Regions from separate parts of the Homo sapiens genome. Here regions 2 and 3 are each reported to be linked to region 1. The links are microRNA targets in miRTarBase. Many come from high-throughput screens and were not tested one by one. Region 1 holds a microRNA gene; each other region holds the end of a gene's coding sequence.

What was found. The annotated mature microRNA hsa-miR-3913-5p reads UUUGGGACUGAUCUUGAUGUCU and lies in region 1 at 2,659-2,680, opposite strand. An mRNA with a match to its seed (bases 2 to 7 or 8) in the 3' UTR can be bound and repressed. Matches are read on the target gene's strand: a 7mer-m8 pairs with bases 2 to 8, a 7mer-A1 pairs with bases 2 to 7 and ends in A, and an 8mer does both.
Region 2: miRTarBase lists MATN3 as a target of hsa-miR-3913-5p. Seed matches in the 3' UTR shown: 7mer-A1 at 1,032-1,038 and 7mer-A1 at 1,157-1,163.
Region 3: the mRNA of CLCN6 is a reported target of hsa-miR-3913-5p. Seed matches in the 3' UTR shown: 7mer-m8 at 2,191-2,197.

Annotation. Positions count from the first base shown.
Region 1 is chr12:69,583,362-69,587,423 of GRCh38, reverse strand. It overlaps MIR3913-2 (microRNA 3913-2), which reads right to left and starts at 2,701; the gene lies at 2,602-2,701. It overlaps CCT2 (chaperonin containing TCP1 subunit 2), which reads right to left and starts at 1,965. Exons shown (of 16, transcript NM_006431.3): 1 at 1,900-1,965; 2 at 1,080-1,154; 3 at 606-671. The coding sequence starts at 1,902. MIR3913-1 (microRNA 3913-1) reads left to right here and starts at 2,601; the gene lies at 2,601-2,702. RefSeq lists an enhancer at 1,595-1,934.
Region 2 is chr2:19,989,394-19,993,456 of GRCh38, reverse strand. MATN3 (matrilin 3) reads left to right here. Exons shown (of 8, transcript NM_002381.5): 8 at 291-1,405. The coding sequence ends at 346. It overlaps WDR35 (WD repeat domain 35), which reads left to right and starts at 3,352. Exons shown (of 27, transcript NM_020779.4): 1 at 3,352-3,465. The coding sequence starts at 3,442. WDR35-DT (WDR35 divergent transcript) reads right to left here and starts at 3,253. Exons shown (of 3, transcript NR_110235.1): 1 at 2,963-3,253. RefSeq lists a silencer at 3,132-3,211 and enhancers at 3,372-3,421, 3,052-3,555, 3,572-3,621.
Region 3 is chr1:11,839,427-11,843,489 of GRCh38, reverse strand. It overlaps CLCN6 (chloride voltage-gated channel 6), which reads right to left. Exons shown (of 23, transcript NM_001286.5): 23 at 360-3,347. The coding sequence ends at 3,267. It also overlaps NPPA-AS1. Among named protein-coding and RNA genes, the nearest start is that of NPPA, 6.3 kb to the left of the region's middle.

The DNA.
Region 1 (4,062 bases):
GCTAGTGTATAAACACTCTGGATAGCTATTTTGTGGTATCCATTCATCAAATGTTTTCAATACATACACCACGTAACCAAACCATGTATCTACCCCTAGAAACACTAGAAGCACAGGTAGACACTAGTTTTTGTTTCAACACCGTAACTGCAAAAACAATGGAAAGAAACTATCAATACAGCCATAATTAAATTATAAAATAATTAAGGTACAGGATAATATTTGACAGTTAAAGGGGCAGTGTTATCTACTTACACTGAAAGGAATTTAAAAGAGCAAGCTACAAAAAAGTATTGATAAATAGTATCTGTTTTATAAAACAGTATGTTACATGAGTATAAAATACATAATGAAGTACACATACTTCTACATAAACAGAATATTAGAAGATGTACGTGCAAATGATAACAGTACTTGTCATTGGGGAGGGGCATGGGATTGGGGATGGTGATTCTGGGGACTCTGATTTTTACTAAGGAGAACATACTTGTCTTTTATAATTAAACGTTTTAAAGATTAAAAAGCATTTTAATACGCTTGTTATTATATTTCCACCAAGCGCTCTAAAACAATATTAAAATATAAAACTTTTCTATTTTTCTTACCATGCCTTTGGGTCCCAAGGTGCTCTTTACCAAGTCTCCAATGGCGATGGCACCAATAAAAGAAGTCTGGAGTAAAAACCAAGGAGATTATCAGAATCAACTTTACAGTCTTCAAGTACAGTTTTATCTTTATTTACTTTTTTTTTTTTTTGAGGCAGAGTGTCGCTCTGTCGCCCAGGCTGGAGTGCAATGGCGCGATCTCAGCTCACTGCAACCTCCGCCTCCTGGGTTCAAGCGATCCTCCTGCCTCAGCCTCCCGAGTAGCTGGGATTACAGGTGCCCATCACCACGCCCGGCTAATTTTTGTATTTCTAGTAGAAACGGGGTTTTACCATGTTGGCCAGGCTGGTCTCGAACTCCTGACCTCAGTTCATCCGCCTACCTCGGCCTCCCAAAGTACTGGGATTACAGGAGTAAGCCACCGCGCCTGGCCTCCAGTTTTATCTTTAAAACAATGCTTAGAACAAGGCTTACCAGACGAGCTGTCTCTGCTCTCTCTTCATCAGCTCCTGCCTTAAAGATGTTAACAGGTGCAAGGGAAAGGGACGCCTGAAAAGGAAAACCAAGAGGCATTCCGTTTAAGTACCAATACTCTAACACATACACTGAGGTGCCTTCCACTAGTCTTACAAGTGGACATCTAAGAGAAAACTCATTTACAACAATGTTTTCAATCAAATGAAGCTTCCATCATCGGAGAAAGCATTTAAGTGGGAGAGAGGGACTTGTAGGAGAGCGACATGGCTTTTCGGATTTACAAGGCCCCCGGGAGTATAAATTATACACCAGCGAGATTGACAGTTACGTACAGCGAGACTAAAGACGATCTTGAACTAAGAATGAGGCAGGGAGGGGTTGCAGGCCATCAAGGTGACGCCTGCCGGGCGGGCGAGGGAACGCGGCCTCCATCTTCCACCCTCGGAAGGCTGCGGCCCCTCCACCCTCTGATGGCTCAGACCCCGTCGCTCCAGGCTCCGCCCCTAGAAGGAGGGCGGAGCGGGTCCCACACTAGAAATTTCTTCGCTCCGGGTGAGGCGCGGACCTGGGCTGCCGGGACTATGCAAAGACCTAGGCACAAGGAGACGCTGGCTTTGCGGTCCACCCCTCCCCCTCGTGGTGAGCTCCACCGGCTGGCCTGGCGCAGGCCGCACGCCCCGCGCATGGCTCGCACCATGTGCGGAGGGCCGGGGAGACAGAAACGGAGCCTACGACCCTAGCAGGACAGAGGAAGCAGTGGGGTGGCAAGAGCACGGCGGAGCAGGGGTAGGGCAAGAGGCAGGGGAGTCAGGCTCACCATGGTTCCGAGGAGTTCCGCACACAAGTGAATCCCCTCACAGCTCGTGCTCGGGACCAGCGGACTGAAGGAAGCCGGAAGTGACGCCACACGCCCTACTTCGGGGGGCGGGGCCCCGGCCTGTCGTTACCGCCAGCAGGCGTCCCATTTTGATTGGAGCCCCACGGGCCGGAAACGCAGCCTTTCACACTGGAGGGGGCGTGGCCGCCGCTCCAGAACAAAGAGGCGGCTGCCGCGCGGGTTGCCATAGAAATGGAGTTCTTGCTCACACTTTTTATTTTCTTAAATTTAATCTTTAAACACTTCTATTAAAGTCACACATGTACACAGTTTAAAGTGTTATATACCAATAAGGAAAAACATAATTTATCTGCCTCACCACTTCCTGTCTCCAGGAAAACTGCTTTCAACTTTTTCAGTTTTTTGGAGGGGCTATTTACTATCATATTCCCAGATAATATTATTGCTATGTTAATTTTAAACATTATTTACTGAGTATTACAGAAGAAGACTTCCTTTTCTCTTACTGAATTTTCAGACGTTATTTCTAACTGGACGTTGACTGCCCAGGATAAGGTCTTGTGAACTGAGAGAGACATTTATAGTATTTTATCTTTGCCCTATTTACTCATTTTCAGGAATTTTTGCATTTCGGTCTTTTTTTTTTTTTTCCTCCAATAGTAGAGACGACTTATTAGTCTTTGTTTATAATAAACTGAAATATTTGGGACTGATCTTGATGTCTGCCAAAACCTTGGCAGACATCAAGATCAGTCCCAAATATTTCAGTTTATTATAGACAGTTTTCTACTTTCTCTAAGTTGACGGATGTCTAAAAATTTGTTCTCTAAAAAATTTTTCTGTCATCTACTGATACCCTCTTTTCTCCCTTTGACTAACTGATCGCTTAAGCTCCTCGGCAGGGCGCGGTGGCTCACCCCTGTAATCCCAGCACTTTGGGAGGCCGAGGTGGGCGGATCACCTGAGGTCAGGAGTTGGAGACCAGCCTGGCCAACATGGTGAAACCCTGTCTCTACTGAAAATACAAAAATTAGCCGGGCGTGGTGTGCATGCCCGTAATCCCAGCTACTCAGGAGGCTGAGGCAGGATAATTGCTTGAACCCGGGAGGCAGAGGTTTCAGTGAGCCGAGATCACGCCGCTGCACTCCAGCCTGGGCAACAGAGCGAGACTCTGTCTCAAAACAAAAACAAAACAAAACAAGCTCCTGGATTTTTCTTTTTCTGTTTTGTTTTTTTTAGAGATGGGGTCTTCTATGTTGCCCAGGCTGGCCTGGAACTCCTGGGCTCAAGCAATCTTCCTGCCTTGGTCTCCTGAGTAGCTGGGGTCTCCTGGATTTTTGACATTGCTAACATTAACAGGAATTTTCAATTTTTTAGTTGTTTCTACCCTTCAGATTTCCTCTAAGTGGGTTGATTTCCACCAGGGGTTGGCAAGCTGTGAGGAGTCAAACCCAGCCTGCCAGTTGTTTTTTGTATGGCCTGAGAGCTAAGAATAGTTTTTACATTTTTAAGTGGTTGAAAGAAATCAAAAATTTCCTGACACATGAAAATCCTGTGAAATTAATATTTCAGTGTCCATAAAGCTTCATTGGAATCCATGGGCATACCCATACATATTTACTCTGTCACAATACGATAGCAGAGTTATGTGGCAGAGTTGAGTAGTCATGACAGGTTGAATGGGCCCACAAAACCTAAAACATGTATTATCTAATTCTTTACAGAAAAAGTTTGCTGACCCTGGTTTACAGTATTCCTCAGGTCCAACATGAAAAGGGGAGTTCAGGCTGGACAAATTGTTATTTTAAATCTCCCAAGAGTTTTCTCTTCTTTGTAGGAAAATTTGGTCTTCTTTCAGGAAATGTACTTTCCTAGGCAGATCCCAAATCGCATTCTGGAATGAGAAGATTCACAATAAAAAACTAAGATGCCTGCACAATATTGAAAAAGGTTGTTTTTATTGTGGGCAAAATTACATACCTGGAGATATTTATTATGTCCTCTGGTAGGCAAGCCTGAGACTGTGTGTGATGGGGAAACCAATGACTGCTCCCTGCTGGGCTTTGAATGTAGCCAGAGGCATTTGGATGGGGAGAAGGAGGCAGGCCCTGCCACCTTGTGGAACTGAGGCTAGAGGCAGCC
Region 2 (4,063 bases), not on the chromosome of region 1:
ACTTCATAAACACTGCTTCCCCCATCCCTCACACTAAGATGCTACTCCAATTACATTTTATATGAACAAAAACATCTGAAGACCACTGCAGGGGTCTACTTTTATTGTGCTCTCTGAAGAACAGGATTTTTGACTTTTAGACTGAATTCAACTTTTGGTGAGAAAACAGTTTTGCTCTTTTTTTTCACTTCTCATAGGACATAATTATTTTATCTTGTGAAGTGTTTGAAAGTGTGTTTATATTTTCTAATGTGTAAAAATAAATGGTGTTGGCCTTAACAACTTGCCACTTGATGACATTTTGGAGAAGTTGAAAATAAATGAATATGGACAAATACATCGTTAAATTGCTCCAATTTCTCACCTGAAAATGTGGACAGCTTGGTGTACTTAATACTCATGCATTCTTTTGCACACCTGTTATTGCCAATGTTCCTGCTAATAATTTGCCATTATCTGTATTAATGCTTGAATATTACTGGATAAATTGTATGAAGATCTTCTGCAGAATCAGCATGATTCTTCCAAGGAAATACATATGCAGATACTTATTAAGAGCAAACTTTAGTGTCTCTAAGTTATGACTGTGAAATGATTGGTAGGAAATAGAATGAAAAGTTTAGTGTTTCTTTATCTACTAATTGAGCCATTTAATTTTTAAATGTTTATATTAGATAACCATATTCACAATGGAAACTTTAGGTCTAGTTTCTTTTGATAGTATTTATAATATAAATCAATCTTATTACTGAGAGTGCAAATTGTACAAGGTATTTACACATACAACTTCATATAACTGAGATGAATGTAATTTTGAACTGTTTAACACTTTTTGTTTTTTGCTTATTTTGTTGGAGTATTATTGAAGATGTGATCAATAGATTGTAATACACATATCTAAAAATAGTTAACACAGATCAAGTGAACATTACATTGCCATTTTTAATTCATTCTGGTCTTTGAAAGAAATGTACTACTAAAGAGCACTAGTTGTGAATTTAGGGTGTTAAACTTTTTACCAAGTACAAAAATCCCAAATTCACTTTATTATTTTGCTTCAGGATCCAAGTGACAAAGTTATATATTTATAAAATTGCTATAAATCGACAAAATCTAATGTTGTCTTTTTAATGTTAGTGATCCACCTGCCTCAGCCTCCCAAAGTGCTGGGATTACAGGCTTGAAAGTCTAACTTTTTTTTACTTATATATTTGATACATATAATTCTTTTGGCTTTGAAACTTGCAACTTTGAGAACAAAACAGTCCTTTAAATTTTGCACTGCTCAATTCTGTTTTTCGTTTGCATTGTCTTTAATATAATAAAAGTTATTACCTTTACATATTATCATGTCTATTTTTGATGACTCATCAATTTTGTCTATTAAAGATATTTCTTTAAATTATACTGAATTAACAGTTATTTTGATATTCAACAGTTTCTTATCAAAAGACAGAAGTTTGATTCTCCTCCTATAGTTTAATCTCACACTCCTGAGGCTAAAAGTGTAAGTTCAGGTTCAAAAGAAAGGCTTCAATATAAAATTATCTAAATTTGGATAAAATAATGATGAGCTTTACATTAATATAAGCTCCTGAGAAGCAAATATATCCTACAGATGTAAATATAAAATATAAACTTTAAGGAAGGAACAAAAACTAAATATACCAAGGAAATATATAAAGCATCTCTTACTTTTCAAAAATTTTGAAAGGGTATGACATAGAGCTACAGTAGTATTTTCCAGACTTTTTTGAGCCCAAAATCAGTAATACATATTAATATACCACAGAGAAATGGTGGTATAGAAGGAATAAATGAGAGTTCATGTGCAAGAAGGGAAAGATAAAGAGAGGTGAGTTTTCAGGTGTCACCATCAGTAACTAGCTTCAACTAATTATGTCTTGACCAGTTTATTGGAAACTCCTGGGTTAGATAATACTAATTTGTCTCATGCGTCCAGTATAGGGAGCCTATGGACAGGGGCCAATGTATCTTAAACAGACACACAAACAATGGAAAGCAAACATTATCTGAATGGGATTGGGTTAAGTTTGGAAAGAATTCCTCATGGAGACTGATTTGTGCTGGTTTGGCTAGGCACAACTGGCCTGTTAAGAGGGTAGGACCATATATAAAGTGGCTTGGGAAGCAGAGCCGGATGGAATGTTGCCCTGCAGAAAGCATATTGGCTTACTTGAGGTGGGGGCTCCCTAGTAAAAACATTTAGGATTGAGGGAAGATCTGATTTTGGATGGAGTTTAGATTTGCTAGGAAAGGCACTAGGGACTATTGTCAATTCTATAATAGATTGTGCTGGGTGAGACAAATCACCCAGGTCAAAGGATTGGAGGATTTTTATTTTATTTTTGTCTGAGATGGGAAAAGACTCCAAGTGGGGAAATTAACTACTGATGCATAAATTACATGCTAGATTATGGTAAAAGGGAAAACCAGAAATAAAAACATAGGTGAGACCAAATAATTTCATGAGTGGTTCTACTTGGATTTCTGCCCTATGCCTTAGACTTTGAGGCTTTGTAACTCTCAAGCATTCCAAAAGGACAAAGGAGAATGAAGAAAGAAGGTAAGAAAAAGAAGAGAATATGTAACAGTCGACTCTAGACGAGAAAACACCAAACGCTCAAATATTTGTAAAATGGGAGGCCATGCCCCAATAGCAATTGTACGCTGTAATTACCCAACGTTTACAGAAATTCCTTTAAAAGGACCCTCGGGGTTGCGGTAATAATTAAACTGTTAAAAAATATCAAAACAAGCGGAATAAACAAAATCTTCTATTCCTAAATTGCTCTAGAGGTTCTCCAATCCCCAAAGACACAGAGAAGGGTTGTAAGATCTCAGTACGCACATTTGCACTTTCATCTGGCCAGTGGCGCCAGCCTATCAAATACAGTAAATGGCTTTTCCCTTTCAAGAATGTTGGAACTTTGGAACTTACAAAATACTAAATAATTTGCCCTTATTCGAACGGGCGCCTCTCCTCTTAGGTTTATAGTAATGCCACCTGAGGCGCGGCTCCATAGCGATCATCACAGGTGTGGCGGGAGGGAGGGCGGCAGTGACCACGAGACGGGGCGCAGAGGGCGAGCGCACGGCTGGCAGTGACAGGTCGCGACCCAGCTCCTTGCGGAGAGCAGAAAGGCCCAGACGCCAGGGAACAGGACTAGCCCAGCTACCGCCTCGCGCCTCGCGCCCTGCGCCCACAAACCCATCGACGTCCGCGCAGGCGCACTACGCCGGTGCCCGGTGCGAGGGCGTCACCGGAAGTGTCCCGCGGCGCCCCGGATGCGACCGGGCAACAGCGGTTGCCAGGGCGACGGGAGCTTTCCGGAGCTGCTGGTACTCCCGATTGGAGACGTAGAACCGTTACTTGTCGAGGGCCTTAGCGGCCGCCGTGACCCTCTCGGGGATCCCACGATGTTCTTCTACCTGAGCAAGAAAGTGAGTTTCCTGGGGGGCGTCCTCGTTTCTCCGCCATTCCCGCAGCCTGCGGCGATTCCCGCTGCCTTCCCGAGAAGCCAGGCTCCTTCACCCGGTCCTGGTCGTGGCTTCGCCATTCCGCAGCCATCCTTCCCGCCGGGTCCAGCCTCCGACCTCTTCCTGCGGTTCCCAGAGCCTCAGTCTTTGGCCGAGCTTGCTGCCCTCTCGCAGCACTCTCCCATTCCTGCCCCTGGCTAGGTCCTTTTGGGTGGCTTGAGGATAAGTCGCCACGTGCTACCCTATGTTTCCTCCTCCACTTGTTGCTGATCCACGTGATTTAAACTCTTTGGATCACCACGAGCCATTGGGCAAGAGAAAAGAAATAACAATAGGATAGCCTAAGTTGTAGGTAAAAAGGAAGAGGGACTGGTGGTATGGATTTATACCCTCTCCCCGTCCTCCCTTTAAAAAATCCATCCGGTGAGACTCTGGCGTTGGCTTCCTCCGCAGTCACTATCCTTCTCTTTTGTGCACTTCTTTCCCTCTTTCCCAAATGCTAGAGCCCGGGTCAGTTCAGGGGACCATGCCCATTTTCACAACAGCTCATTTTTTTTCTGCA
Region 3 (4,063 bases), not on the chromosome of region 1:
CCCTTGAAAGAAAGAGCAGCAGGGCCGGGCGTGGTGGCTCACGCCTGTAATCCCAGCACTTTGGGAGGCCGAGGCGGGTAGGATCACCAGGTCAGGAGATTGAGACCATCCTGGCTAACATGGTGAAACCCCATCTCTACCAAAAATACAAAAAATTAGCCAGGCATGGTGGTGGGCGCCTGTAGTCCCAGCCACTCGGGAGGCTGAGGCAGGAGAATGGCGTGAACCTGGGAGGCGGAGCTTGCAGTGAGCTGAGATGGCACCACTGCACTCCAGCCTGGGTGACAGCGAGACTCTGTCTCAAAAAAAGAAAGAAAGAAAGAAAGCAGCATGGAGACAAAAGGCTAAAGGAGACAGAGGAGACAGAAGACATTTTATTCTCACATGTTAGGGTTACAATGAGAACTCCCAAGTTCCAAAGGTTCAAATAAAAATAGCATTTTACAAATTAAAAAAAATACAATTTATATACACAGTGGAATTAGCTAACATCATACAAACAAACAGTGCAAACAGAAAAAAGGAAGCTGCGACTGCGGCAATGGCCAAGGTCCGCAGAGCTGTGGTGCAATACTGCACATCAATACTGCAGGGCTGGCGAGGCCACCTTGGGCCTCTCGAAAGGCTTTCCTGTCACCCAGGGTCATGTCAGTGCATAATTCTGCATCACAAATGCCATACAGTGGACTGGGTCCTGAAAGTGTCCCTTCCAGCTGGGAACTGTTAAGTTAATCAAGGTCAGGAGCAAATCATCCCTCAGCACAAGGTCCCAAAGCCAGGGCCGGGGGCCCATTGGCCCCACTCCCTGATCACCTCGCCTAGGGGCCATGGAACACCAAGCTGGAGATGAAACACAAAACACCACTTCTTACCACCCGTAGGCTCCCCATCCACAGATCTGCTTTACTGAGGCGACTGATCACTGGGTGATGGGGCTGCTAATGGGTGAGATGCTGAAAAGGCTGGTTTCTAATGGACAGAAATGGAAGGAGCGAGGGTCACAGTTGATTTGTCATGAGTGGAGAAGTTGCTGTCTTTGGGCTTATCTGGAAAGCGCAGATGCAGAGAGAGGAGAAAAGGAAACCACGTGCCTTTGCATGGGGCCTGGGTTTGGGGCCTCCTTGGCAGCCGTCCAGTCAGTTTAGGGGAGGGAGGTATTTGCATTCTACTGTCTATCTCTGGGCTAAACTGATGGGAACAAAATATCTGGTGACTTAAACACAACAGGATGTGCACGAGGGATGAATTCCAATAACATTCACCGGGGCAGCCTCAGGGCAGGCGGCTGCTGATCCAGCCCTCGAGAGGCCGGGGTCCTCCTGCAGGGCGTTAGCTCTGCCAGCTCCAGGAAGGGGCGGGGAGAGGGGACAAAGTGTCTGTGACAGGTGATCACACCATTCTCCTGACTTGGACAATTGGCTTCCTTCTTAATAAAAGGAAGAAATAACGTGATCAAGCTCTGAACACTGCCATAAAACACAGCAGCAGCTGGCCAAATAGTAACATTTAAATAAGAATTGCCTTTTTGGTCCTTGTGATGTCCTGCGCTATTTCCTGGGAGTATTATCCCCATTTCATAAGTCAGGTGCATTCTGGGAAGCAGAAACATTTAGAAGTCAAAGCAATTTTGGTCAGGGAGATAAGAAAATGGGGAAAATGGAGGGGCCACAATCAGCTAGAAAAGACCTTGAAGCAGCCCCATCTCTGGAGTGGAATTATTCCCTAGAGTGTGCTGAGCGCAAGATCTGGACCAGCAGAGCCAGGACTGATGCTCACCCCAGGGTGAAAGGCAGACTTGGCCAAGGAGGTCGCCCAGGGCTGGGCCTGAGAGCTGTGCTGCCAGGGCCAGGTGCCGAGGCCCGTGGGCAACCTCCACGGTTTTAAAAAAAACTAAACGTAAATGAAGGCCATCTTGAGCCAAAGCACGTCTGCCCCAGGGATGCCTGCTGGGACTAATACCATGTAGAAGGTGGGGGAAGATAAGCATGAATGCCCAATGCCCAGATGCTCACTTTGGGTGCCTAGTCAGAGGGGGCGGGCCAGCCTGGAGAAGAATGACGTCACTGAACGACAGGGTGCGCTTCCCATGCTTCATGTGAAACCTTCAGGCACGTGCTGGCAGGAAGCATCTTCCCCACGCACCCTCCCTGCGGCACAGGAGGCCCTCCTGAAGGGCCTCTGTATGTAAGCTTGGGACAGCTAGTGCAGGGGAGAGAGAGGTGTTTGTGAAGGGCAGACACCCTCTTCCTCAAATAGGCCATCTGCTTTATCATAGCACATACCTTTCAGTGGTCACTGGCTCAGAAGTGCTTCCTTTCTACTTTGGAAAAAAAATGGTAGCATTCCCCAGAGTTGAGTGAAGCTGCTTTATCCAGGAGTGCCCTGCTTTCAGCTAACTTTGGTGGGTGATGCCAAGATCCTCTGAGCTCTGCCTGCTTCATCAGGAAGACGGAGATCAAAACTTAAGGAAATGAAAAAGGATCTGGGTAGAAACGTGTTACTGGGAGACTGGGAATAATCTGCAGATGGAGAGAAAGCTGCAATGTTAAGAATTAGGGTAGACGTAAATCTGATCCTATTATCAGATTGACCATCCAGGGGTTATTAGTGTGATTTTAATCCTTTATGTTTCTGGTGGGCGGTGGTTCTAAGGAGAGTCAAACCACAGGGCAAGACCAGAGCCTCTGCTCACACCCAGGAGCAGAGTGTTTCCCTTAAAACCAACTAGCGAGGATACCGTGTTAAGAGTCCCAAATAAGGGAAGGACTCTCTGAAATATTGAGAATTTTCTCAGTGCCCAATTCCTAAACCTAGTCATGAACTGTATGTTGTCACTGGCATCTCCCCAGCTTTTGCCTTGGCCAAGTCCCTCTCACACATTTAAGGCAACAGCCGGGTTCTCTAGGAAAGTAGCAAAGATGGCCAGGAACACTGCTCGGAGTGCAGCCCGGGGCCCGCCTGATTCTACCTCTGCTTCTGGCTCTGGTGGAGCCAGGGGTGGGCCTGTGCCAACACTGGAGGGTGGGAACACAGGGAGCAGGAAGTGGGAAGATCCTTGCTGGGGAAGTCAGAAAAGTCCAAGCTCTGATGGTTCAAAACCACCCCCAGGACCTCTGACCAGCAAGGTGTCCGATGACTCCCGGCTTTCTGAGTGAGTGGGTGACTGGGAATCTTCCATGCCCCGGAACAGCCCCAGCCAGCTGTGCCCGCCGGAGTGAGCATGATTTGCCTCCCCAGGCAGCACCAGGAGAGGGTGGGCTGGGCTGTCAGATGGTCTGGTAGTGCTGCCTCAGCCGGGCCTGCAGAAATTCATAGGTGAGGTTGTGCCGTGTGATGATCCCCACGATCTAGGGCAAAGAGAAGGCCTGAGTCACCTTCAGGGTAAAACCCGCTGGCGAGAACAGGAGTGACAGGAGCCGGCCCTGTTAGTTTGTCACAGAATGTGGAGGCCTGGATAGTGCACAGCCAGACACAGCTTGATTGGGATAAACAGCTAACGAGGGCTCACACACTGGAGGCCAAGGGGACAAGGTTAGCTCCAAAAAGGGCTTGGGCCAGCTGGCATCTGAACTAAAATGTCCTTCCACAGGGCACATGCTCAGCGCTCAGCTCCCATCATGACCAGCCTGCTTCACAGATGTGCAAGCGGTGGGGCCCTTGAAGTCTCCTGAGATTATGACCCCTGCCATGCCTCATACTCACCACCTTGCAAAGTGACCTATGGGAGTCATTTGTTACAGGTCGTTACAGTGGTTCCCACGTGTCACTGTTGTTGGGAACTCCAAAGCCACGTCATAAACTATGTTAGGACTCTGTCAGTGTAGTTGGCAATTACATTTCAAGGGACATAAGTTAACCTACTGCAACAAAACCTGTGTAAGTACGCACTATGCATGCCAGGGTTGTGCCGCATAGAAGAAAAGACTGAGGCCGGGTGCAGTGGCTGACGCATGTAATCCCAGCACTTTGGGAGGCCGAGGCAGGTGAATCACTTGAGTTCAGGAGTTCAAGACCAGCCTGGGCAACATGGCGAAACCGTGTCTCTACCATAAATACAAAAACT